Regions from separate parts of the Homo sapiens genome. Here region 2 is linked to region 1. The links come from fine-mapping of genetic effects on gene expression. A gene starts in region 1. The other region holds a variant in brackets. All regions are shown on one strand. Distances are between the middles of the regions.

The links. PIP is the estimated chance that this variant, and not a neighbour inherited with it, causes the effect. A credible set is the group of variants that fine-mapping cannot tell apart.
Region 2: its variant is the best candidate, but not a certain one, in a credible set for the expression of FAR2 in iPS cells (HipSci, PIP 0.73).

What each region holds. Positions count from the first base shown.
Region 1 is chr12:29,146,977-29,152,363 of GRCh38, forward strand. It overlaps FAR2 (fatty acyl-CoA reductase 2), which reads left to right and starts at 2,302. Exons shown (of 12, transcript NM_001271783.2): 1 at 2,302-2,431. RefSeq lists silencers at 2,150-2,209, 2,520-2,669.
Region 2 is chr12:29,285,879-29,291,265 of GRCh38, forward strand. All of the region lies in intron 2 of FAR2 (fatty acyl-CoA reductase 2), which reads left to right. All of the region lies in intron 5 of FAR2-AS1 (FAR2 antisense RNA 1), which reads right to left. Among named protein-coding and RNA genes, the nearest start is that of FAR2-AS1, 29 kb to the right of the region's middle. The variant T/A (reference allele first, on the strand shown) is at 2,662.

The DNA of each region.
Region 1 (5,387 bases):
GTTATTATCTGTTATGGGTGGAACTGCGTTCTTCTCCGCCCCTGCCAGTTTCACATATTGAAGTCCTAACTCCCAGTACTCTAGAATGTGACCTTATTGGGAAATAGGGTTGTTGCAAATTTAATTAGTAAAGTTAAAATGAGGCCATTAAGGTGAGCTCTAAATCATATATGACTGGTATCTTTATAAAGGATAAATTTTGACACAGACATGAACATAGGGAGAATGCCATATGAAGATTATAGGAGACAGGGGTCATGTGTCTACAAGCCAACAAGAAACCACTGGAAGTAGGTAAGCATCATGGAAAATTCTCTCTCAAAGCCCTCATAAGGAACCAACCCTGCAGACATCTTGATCTTGGTCTTCTAGCCTCCAGAATTATGAAATAATACATTTCTATAGTTTAATCCACCCAGTTTATGTGCATCCTTATGACAGCCTTAGCAAACTAATACATTCTACATATATGAATAGCGTTTTAAATGGTGATAATCAAATTGTGGTTTTGTAATCTATAATTAATGTTGTATTTTATCTATGAACATCCCACTGAAAGTATGCTTTTAATTTCCTACTTTATAAACAACTCGGTAATAAATATGCAACTATGTACATGCGGCATTTCTCTTTTATGGATTATCTCCTTTGAATACATTGTAAGACATGGGAATCTAGGTCCAGAACAAGAAAAAATTTCGTTACTGAACACCTTGGGAATGTGTTGCTAAATTGCTTTCCAACAAAAGCGTGATTACAATTTACCTTCCATCTGCTATCTGTTAAGTGATTTCTATACGTTTTCACCAGCATTTGACATTATCATTTGAAGTGCTGTCACACACATTTTGAAGATACATTCAAATTTATTCTTGAGGAGGGGAGGGGTAACGAAAAATACTATAAATTTGGTTGTAACTTTTTTTCTGTCTCTTGCATTCAGGCGGTCACCAGAGGAAATTAGTCAGTGCCTTTAGGCTACACTTAGCTTAACACATTTCATTAAAGAGCCCAGTAGTAGAGAATTCAAGATGGGTGTTATTATTTTAATTTCATGAAATCACTCCTTAATTCTAACTTTCAAAAGTCAAATTTTATTTCTTTAATTGCATGTGGATTGTTATAATGAGGAGAATCAGAACAGCTTATAGGACAATATTTCTTTTCTATTTTTCTTAACACACCATATTTATTTGGAAATTTACCTCCTACATTGTCCAGGGAATTAGGATGGGCGTTGGCCGTTTTTCAGCACTTCCTGGTTGAGGCCAAGGGCTCCACTCACGTGCCTGTCCATCCCTCTACAAGGCTTCCCTGGCAGCTTGTTTTTCCGTTTAAAATTTAACAATGACCAAATCCCAAAAAAGCTACCAGGCTAAGAAATGAAACATCTTTTTTTCTTTTAAGTCCGGAGAAGTGCTGCTGAGCACAGCTGGCTCACTGCTGTTTCTGCGGCCCCCATCTCTGATCCTTTCTAGTCTCCTACCCACCCCCACCCCACCATAGGCAGGCAGAGCCGGATTTCTGCCCTTCAAACCCCGAGTGTGAGGAAGCCTCACCTGAAGTCCTCGCATCACCCTCCACCCTCACGCCCTTGGGTTTTAAAAAGCCACTGCGTTCGTGGGTCACTGCAGGGCGCCTCCGCAATGTCTTTAGCAGATACAAGAGCATCCCTCCCACGGGATGTGCAGTGTAGTCAAGCTGAGTAAACTGGGATTTTTGGCTGCCTTTTCTGCTAGGGTGGGTGGGGAAAGGTATGTCCCCCAAGCGTTCAGTTCAGACTAGAACCTTTGAATCTCTCTCCTGTCTCGGTCTCTCCCTCCACCCCCCTACCCCGCCACCTTTCACGGTGTGGGAGTTCTCCTTTCCCACACCAGAGAGGGGCGCCTTTCTAGCTTCCTTGTCCCCTCGCCCACTGATTAAAAAATGGAGAAAAAAACCAACCCCAAAACCCAAAACAAAACAAAACAAAAGCCCCAAACAAACAAACAAACCAAACCCACCGAAACCAAAACCAACTCCCCTCCCCCAAACCACACAAATGCGGGAGTCATAGCCAGTGGATCCGCTGGTGCTGAACGAATGGAAGCGCGGGGCGGGCCTGCGCGCGCGGCCGCCCTGCCCACGATGCTGTCGCCCCCGCGACCTGTAGGGCCTTCGCTGGCCCCTCACCCTCCTCCCGCCCCGGGCTGAGGCTGCCGCCGGTTTCGCGCCCAGTGCCGAGGCAGCGGCGGAGCCGGGGAAGGTCGGAGGGAGGGTGGTTTCCTCCCGCCCCACACCCAGTCTCCGAGCCGGATATATAGAGTGTCACGTTTGGGAGCCGAAAGACTGGAGCCGTTTCCTTGTGGCTGGAGCGCTTCCCGTAGCCTCGGGGAAGGAGCAGGATTTAGAGGACCACTAGTTGGACCCCATCCTCGTGCTGGAGGAACAGGTATTCCAGGGTCCCCAGCCCTGGCGCTCGCAGAGCCCACGCGCTCCAAAAGCAGAGACCGGACTGGGGGTGGCCCAGGAGGGAGGGCTCGGCTGGGTTCGCAGGGCGGGGCGGTTCCCGGCGGGACCTCGAGGAGGGTGGGTGTGAGGCCGGGTGGGAGGAGAGAAGCATTTGCGGAGGCTCTGCCCCCTGAAGCTGCCCCCGGCTGCACCCCAATCGTCACCGGCCGTTTACGCGCGGTTGGCGTCGGCGGAGCCCGCCAAGGTGGGGCGCGCGGGGGTTGCAAAGGGCAGAAAGCCGGGAAGGACCCAGCAAGGTTAATGTGGGGGGCCGCGCCTTGGGGACTGGGGACCCGGGAAGAGAGGCGCGGGGCCGAGTCCCACCCAGGCCTCCTGGGCCCTTGGGGCTATTCCTGGAGAGAGCGCGAAAATGCCGGGGCCACGTGTGAAACGGCAGCGGTCCTAGGTCCCCTCCCGGTGCCTGGGACCGCCAGGGCGCCCAGTCCTGGTCCCCGGAGCAGGTCCTCGCCAGCCCCCAGCCCCACCCCAGGCTGCGCACGTCCCTACCCTCCCACCTGGGCCTCGCCGGGGTCGTGGCTGACGCGCGCTGGGGCGACTGGTGAGGCCAGGGCGGGCTTTGCCCCTGTAGGAAGTTTTAGACATCTTCCTGCGGCCTGGGCATCCTGGGGGTGTGCAGGGGAGCAGGTGCCAGCAGACTCCCAACTGGAGTAGATGGCTTGCAGGAAGGCTGCTCAACACTCCTAGCAAGTAGAATTACCCGCGGGGCAGTCTCAGTCTATTAAAACAATTCATGCCCAATCGTATCCTACAAACCAGAGGAAGGCGTCTCACCTGCCAGCGGTGGCACCATTTCTTCCACGGTTGAGTTATGTGGTGTGAGCAACCAAGGTTATCGCTGGATCTGCAAGAGTTTGGCCACTCGTTGAATCACGTAAAGTGCCCCCATTATGTGATGAGCAAGGACAGAGTAGGGTCAGAAAAGTGACCAGGGAATTCAGGTAGATCGTGCTTTTCTGTTTGCTAGGTTGAGAGAAATTTGACACTGGGCAAATGGAAATTTGAGAATTACCCCGTGGTTTCAATTACCCATCTCTGTATATTCCCATTTATAAGAGCTGGAGATTTGACTGACAGGTGTAGTTAGTCCAAAATTTAGAAAGGGGGGCAAGGGACTAAATAAAAACTTAAGGCAGCCACCTAAACTGCAAGAGCAGGCATTTCCGCAGAAGGGATATTTGTGTGTGAGACTTCTAGGAGATGGGCATGAGGTTTTTACCAGGCCGACGCGTGTGTCAATATTTCATCGGTAGTATTTCTCAGGATCCACGTCTTTACAGTACTCTTTTCCTAATTCTGAGGGCTGCTTCTGCCCCTGCTGTATTAACAAATTCCTCACTTACTCCTATTTCTAACATTGGGCTATAATTATCTATAAAAGAGATGTAAATCACCATGAGTTGGTAAATCATACAGCTATTAGAGAAATTAAAGTAAATGAAAATATGCTTTCCTTAAAGGAAGCTAAAATGTGACATCCAGTTACAGAGGAAGAGGGAGAGGTTGAAAATAAATAAAATGGCTTATATTAGGGTATCACTTTGGGGTTTATAAAGCATATGATCATCTTGACCATCTCACCATCTGCTTTCCTATCTCCTGAGGAAGAAGCATTCTTGAGTGCATTTGTTTCTGGCAACGTCTCATCAGTGTTAAGAATTCCTTGATTTTGCATTAATTCCCATGCACTCATGAAAACTTACTTATTCACAAATATAGCCTTGTGAAGGATCATGCACAGTGACCACCAGCATGCTTGTCCCTACCAATATATTCTGACATTGTAGGCTCTGTTGGAACATGTATTACCTTTGAAGAGGGTAACAGACCAATTTGAGAATCTGATGAAAGCTATGGAATATGAAAGACAAATGCATACATATTAACACAAAATTCCACCTACAATTTCAGGAGTTCATGGCCTCCTTGATGCCCAGCCTCCTACATTCTAGATGTCCAGAGGCTCCAGGCAGGGCCAGCTTCATGGAAATACAAAACTGCAACCGCACAGGGCCTTGCACTTGGAAGGGCCCTGCGTTTGGTAATGTTCTGCTATCACCGTCTGCTGGCTTAATAATTTTCAAAGAGGCTCTGGATCTTCATTTTGAACTGGGTCCTACAAATTATATCCTGACCCCAGGCTGACAAACTTGGTCTAAAACTAACCAAATAACAGTGTTTGAACAGCAATCCCACATTTACGGTGAGTTCTCCAGTACAAACCTGAAATTTATCTGCTGCTCACTTAGGTGCTCTTGGACATGTCATTCAGTCTTCCTACATTTCAGTTTCCTCATTGACAAAATAAAGACAACAGATGACACCTTCTACTTTCTTTATTTTCAAGGTTGTACTATCTCTAAGTAAAAAGAGGTAATAATTGTAAAAAATGTCTACTTGCTTTGAATAGTTCTTTTCTAAAAAATATGCTGTTGTTGAAGGGTTAAACTTTGCCCTCCATTTTTCAGAAGTAGCTTGAGGAAGGTTGATTGAGCACACTGAAAAGACTGTAGAACCTTTCTGACCCTTATAGTTTGGTGGAAAATAAAACAAAAAGTAGGCAAGTATTCAGTGTGTTAAATACTCCTGAAATATCATTATTTGGACAAAATTAGAATTTTCAACTAAAGGTGCAGAATAACTTCTTGGATCCCAAAGGTAGTTATTGAATTAAATTAATGTTTGGGTCTAATTCATCCAAACGTCGAACGGTGAGAAAATGAGCCAATGACTGAAATTTTTTGAGGGGGTAATCCTTTTTGTTTCATTTAATTTAAAAAATCTGTAAGTTCAAAAGTTTGATCAAGTCATCCTTTAAAATATCCTAGGAAATGCCAAATCAATTTAAAGTACACCTAGTCTCTTGCCAAATACACCTA
Region 2 (5,387 bases), 140 kb after region 1:
ACTGCACTCCAGCCTGGTGACAGAGCTTCAGTCTTAAAAAAAGCTTCAAATTGCCCATACTAATTTCATTAAAAAAAGTTACCAAGCCATGAGGTTCAACATGATTTTGGCATACATTTTGTTCTTAGAAGTATCTGGATCACAGGATAAAATCAGAAACGTTGGCATGACCCAACACACACACAGACACACACACACACACACACACACATACACACACACACAACACAGCTTTCTGATCAGCAGTTTTTGGAAATGGAGTATTGCTGTGGAAGTAGAAAGGGAATTTTCCTATTATTAGGGAACTACAAAGCGGTGGGCACTATGACAAACATCTGACTTTCATTACACGAATCCTCAGAAATCTCTGCAGTATGCCTATTCCTACATCACAGATGAGATACAGTTGTCATCTCTCCAAGGTTATGTAATTTGTGCCAAGTGATACAGCAAAATTGGAATGCAGGTCTCTAATCTCTAAGTCCATACTTTCCCTATTGTACTGCATTGCCTCCCCTAGGAAATTTCTTCCTCGATGACAATATCATGAGGAAAGTGAAACTATTGCTTGCCATTTCTGAGTTAATATCAGTGTTTTTTCCATCCTCTAGCATGGATAATGCAGAGATGCCACCAGTTCTGTTGGAGAGTAGAAATAATCTTAAGTTTGGTCTCCATCTTCCTAGCCACCCTAGCTCTTTTCCTGCCCAGATGCAAGAAACAATTCTCAAAGGACTGTGAAATTGATCTTTGGTGTGGGGAAAAGAAAACATAACCAGATGATGAATCAAGCACTGTGTTGCCTTTAGCATTTATTGTAGAATATTATGTAAAGTGAACTAAAATTTTGTTAAATACAAAATTGTCTTTAAGAATAGCATAATATATGCTTAAATCTCTGAGGTCACAGAATACGATTTTAAGTGCAAAATTGTCTTTAAGAACAGCAAAATATATGCTTAATTCTCTGAGGTCACAGAATACGATTTTAAATGCAAAATTGTCTTTAAGAACAGCATAATATATGCTTAATTCTCTGAGGTCACAGAATACGATAGTCAGGTGGTTGGCATTTTAGATAAATATGCAAAAACACAATGACCCAGAGAGGTAAGTAACTTCCCCCAGTCACATAGCAAATCAATGGCAGAATCAGAATTCAAATATAATATTTCATGACTCCTAAGGGCCTGAGCTCTTTCCAATACACCAATGGTTCTCAACTTCAGGGTATATCAGAATTACTAGAGACCATGTTCAAAGAAAAGATAGATGCCCAAGCTTGGACTAATAACTGTTGAATGAGAATCTTCAGGGTCAGGACATAGGTTTGTTTGTTTGAGCAACTTCCTGGGCAACCCTGCTATATGCCGAAAGTTGACAGCCATACTACTACACCATGCTGCCTTATGGAGTTATAGAAACGGTCTTCGCTAAAGCACTAAAAACGTCTAGATTAATCCTTTACATCTTATGAGAGTTACTAGTGAACTAGCAACAATTTTAACATTTTGTGAATTTTTGTTAATCTGTACATTGGGTATAATGGTTTTTGCTTAAATTAACGAACTTATTTGTGTTTGTTTTCAACTTAAAGCTAATTTGCAGAATTCATTGATTTGTTTTTACTCAGCACTCTAAAAATTCTCTAAAAAAAATTACAGTGTCTCTTTCACCTTGGGACACCAAATATTCCACAGAGATTGCCCCTTAGTTTAAGCAACCTTACTCATTTATTTTCCAAAAAAAATTAAGCAAATTTTGGTGGGTTATTGGGACTACATAATGTAGTTATTTTTGAAGAGAAAGACTTTTTGAAGAGAAAGACGTAGTAAAATGATTAAAGATCAAAGATTCTCATGATTAGAAAAGATTAGATTACCTTCAATGAGCCCCAGGAAGTAGAGGGCAAATCTCCTGTGGATACTTACAAAATGAGGTCATGTGGCTAACTAGTTCATTGTAAGAGACCATGTTAAAGGCCTCTGGATTGTTTCAAAAGCATTATATAAATGTAATGCCCCCACCCCAATTCCTACTTCTAATAAAAATGCAGTCTTGATGTCTGACTACAGAAGTCATACCCAAGGAGTTTATTTAAACCAGACAAATTTTTTTTTCTGGTTTTCTCTTTCTGCTGAATTTTCTTACTTAAGAGTTTGCAGTTTCTCTGTTGCCTCTGGGCTACAAGTAACTATTCATATAATTAGAAGAGTATCTTATGTTTAAAAACAAATTAAGGAGAGAAATACTTGCCTGTGTAATGGCAAGTCAATGGAACACTCCCAAAGTTTCCAATCTGAAATGCTTAGATCACCTTTCAGCTGTATCTTTCAGTGACCACAGAAATGTGTCCTACTCTTGTAAAGAACAAGGTTTCCTAAAATGGATCAACAGCAATCCCTCTGCTTGAGTTTTGATGATGGTGAGCAGCTTTCCAACTATTTACCTCTCAGTCTTGTGCCATCAAGTAGAGAATATGAGTTTATGCAATGAGAAGAAACAGGATAAGCTCTTAGAATTTAAAATAATTATATTGTTCTTTATTGGTGGGCTTTCAATGAAATTTCTGAAATTCTGTTTTTTCTTTACTCATTTTGATTTCATCTATTTTTCTTACTTTAATCTCTCACATTAGCAACAAACACACCAAAAAGAAAA[T/A]TTTTTTTAGAAGAGCTGGTGCTTATCCAGGTTCCATTTGCACCATTTCATCTTGTCCCTTCAGTCTTGTCATTATTATAAAAATAGAAGGTCTGCTATAAAGACTGGAGAAATTACATTACTTCAAGCTCCCACTGGCAGTTAATATAGAGGACTCAGGAAACACTTGTGTCCTCGTTTAGCAGTCGCTATCTGCTATCTCTCATCACAGTCATACAAACTTCAGGAATCAGGCTTCCATTCTATTGTAGTAATAGTTCTATTACTGATCTTACAGGAATTAATTTTAATTCAATAAGCAAAATTTGAGTCTTTTCAATGAATGGCATACTGTCAGGCATAAAGAGATGAATAAGAATCAAGGAGTTTACAAAGAAATTTTTTAAAAAGCCTTTAAAATAGCCACACATAAAATTAAATACCTAGGAATTAACTTGACCAGAGAAGTGAAAGATCTCTATAATGAAAACTATAAAACACTGATGAATGAAATTGAAGAGGACACCAAAAACTAGAAAAGTATTCCATGTTCATGGATTAGAAGAATCAATATTGTTAAAATGTCCATACTACCATCCAAAGCAGTGTACAGATTCAGTGCAATCCTTATCAAAATATCAGTAACATTATTCATAGAAATAGAAAAAAACAATCCTAAAATTTATTTGGAACCGCAAAAGACTGAGAATAGCCAAAGCTAACCTGAGCAAAAAAGAATAAAACTGGAGGAATCACATTACTTGACTTCAAATTATACTACAAAGCTATGGTAACCAAAATAGCATGGTACCAGCATAAAAACAGACACACAGACCAATAGAACAGAATAGAGAACTCAGAAAAAAATCCACACACCTACAGTGAACTCTTTTGACAAAGGTGCCAAGAATATACACTGCAGAAAAGACAGCCTCTTCAATAAATGGTGTTGGGAAAACGATATCCAGATACAGCAGAATGAAACTAGACCTCTATCTCTCTCCATATACAAAAATCAAATCAAAATGGATTAAAGACTTAGATCTAAGACTTCAAACTATGAAACTACTACAAGAAAACATTTGGGAAAATCTCCAGGACGTTGGTCTGGGCAAAAATTTATTGAGCAATACCCCACAAGCACAGGCAACCAAAGCAAGAATGGACAAATGGGATCACATCAAGTTAAAAAGCTTCTACACAGCAAAGGATACAATCAACAAAGTGAAGAGACAAGCCACAGAATGGGGGAAAATATTTGCAAACAACCTATCTGATAAAGGATTAATAACCAGAATACATAAGGAGCTCAAACAACTATACAGTAAAAAGTATAATAATCCGATCAAAAAATGAGCAAAATATTTGAATAACCATTTCTCAAAAGAAGACATACAAAAGACAAACAGGCATATAAAAAGGTGCTCAACATCACTGATCATTAGACATGCAAATCAAAACTACAATGAGATATTATTTCACCCCAGTTAAAATGGCTTATATCCAAAAGATAGGCAATAAAAAATGTTGTCAATGATGTGGAGCAAAAGGAACCCTCATATGCTGTTGGTAGGAATGTAAATTAGTACAACCACTACGGAGAACAGTTTGCATGTTCCTCAAAAAACAATAGAAATACCATATGGGCCAGGTGTGGTGGCTCATGCCTGTAATCCCAGCACTTTGGGAGGCTGAGACGGGTGGATCACTGGAGGTCGGGAGTTCAAGATCAGCCTGGCCAACGTAGCGAAACCCCATCTCTACTAAAAATACAAAAATTGGCCAGACATGGTGGTGCATACTTGTAATCCCAGCTACTCAGGAGGCTGAGGCAAGAGAATCACTTGAACTCAGAAGGTGAAGGTTGTAGTGAGCCAAGATTGTGCCACTGCACTCCAGCCTGGGTGACAGAGTGAGACTCTGTCTGAGAAAAAAAAAAAAAGAAAGAAATACCATATGATCCAGCAGTCCCACTGCAAGGTATATACCCAACAAAAAGGAAATCAGTATCTCAAAGAGGTATCTGCACTCCCATATTTGTTGCAGTACTGCTCACACTAGCTAAGATTTGGAAGCCACCTAAGTGTCCATCAATAGATGAATGGATAAAGAAAATGTGGTACATATACACAATGGAGTACTACTCAGCCATCAAAAAGAATGGGATTCAGTCATTTGCAACAACATGGATGGAAATGGAGGTCATTATGCTAAGTGAAATGAACCAGGCACAGAAAGACAAACATTGCATGTTTTCACTTATTTGTCAGGTACAAAAATCAAAACAATTGAACTCATGGACATAAAGAGTAGAAGGATGGTTACCAGAGGCTGGGAAGGCAAGTGGGAGGGGGTGGATGGGAATGGTAAAGGGTGGCAAACAATAGAAGAATTAATAAGACCTACTATTTGATAGCACAATAGGGTGACTATAGTCAATAATAATGGTACATTTTAAAATAATTTAAAGAGTATAATTGGATTGCTTGTAACTCAAAGGATAAATGCTTGAAGGGATAGATACCCCTTCTCCATGATGTGCTTATTTCATATAGCATACCTGTATAAAAACATCTCATGTACCCCATAAATATATATACCTACTATGTACCCACAGAAATTAAAGAAAAATAGAAAGAGTTTCCCTACAAAAGAAAAAAAGAATCAAGGAGTTTACAAACTAGAGGGGGAAATATAAGCCCTGAATTTAAGAACAGACATGAATTTTTCAGAGTCAGTGTTTCCCA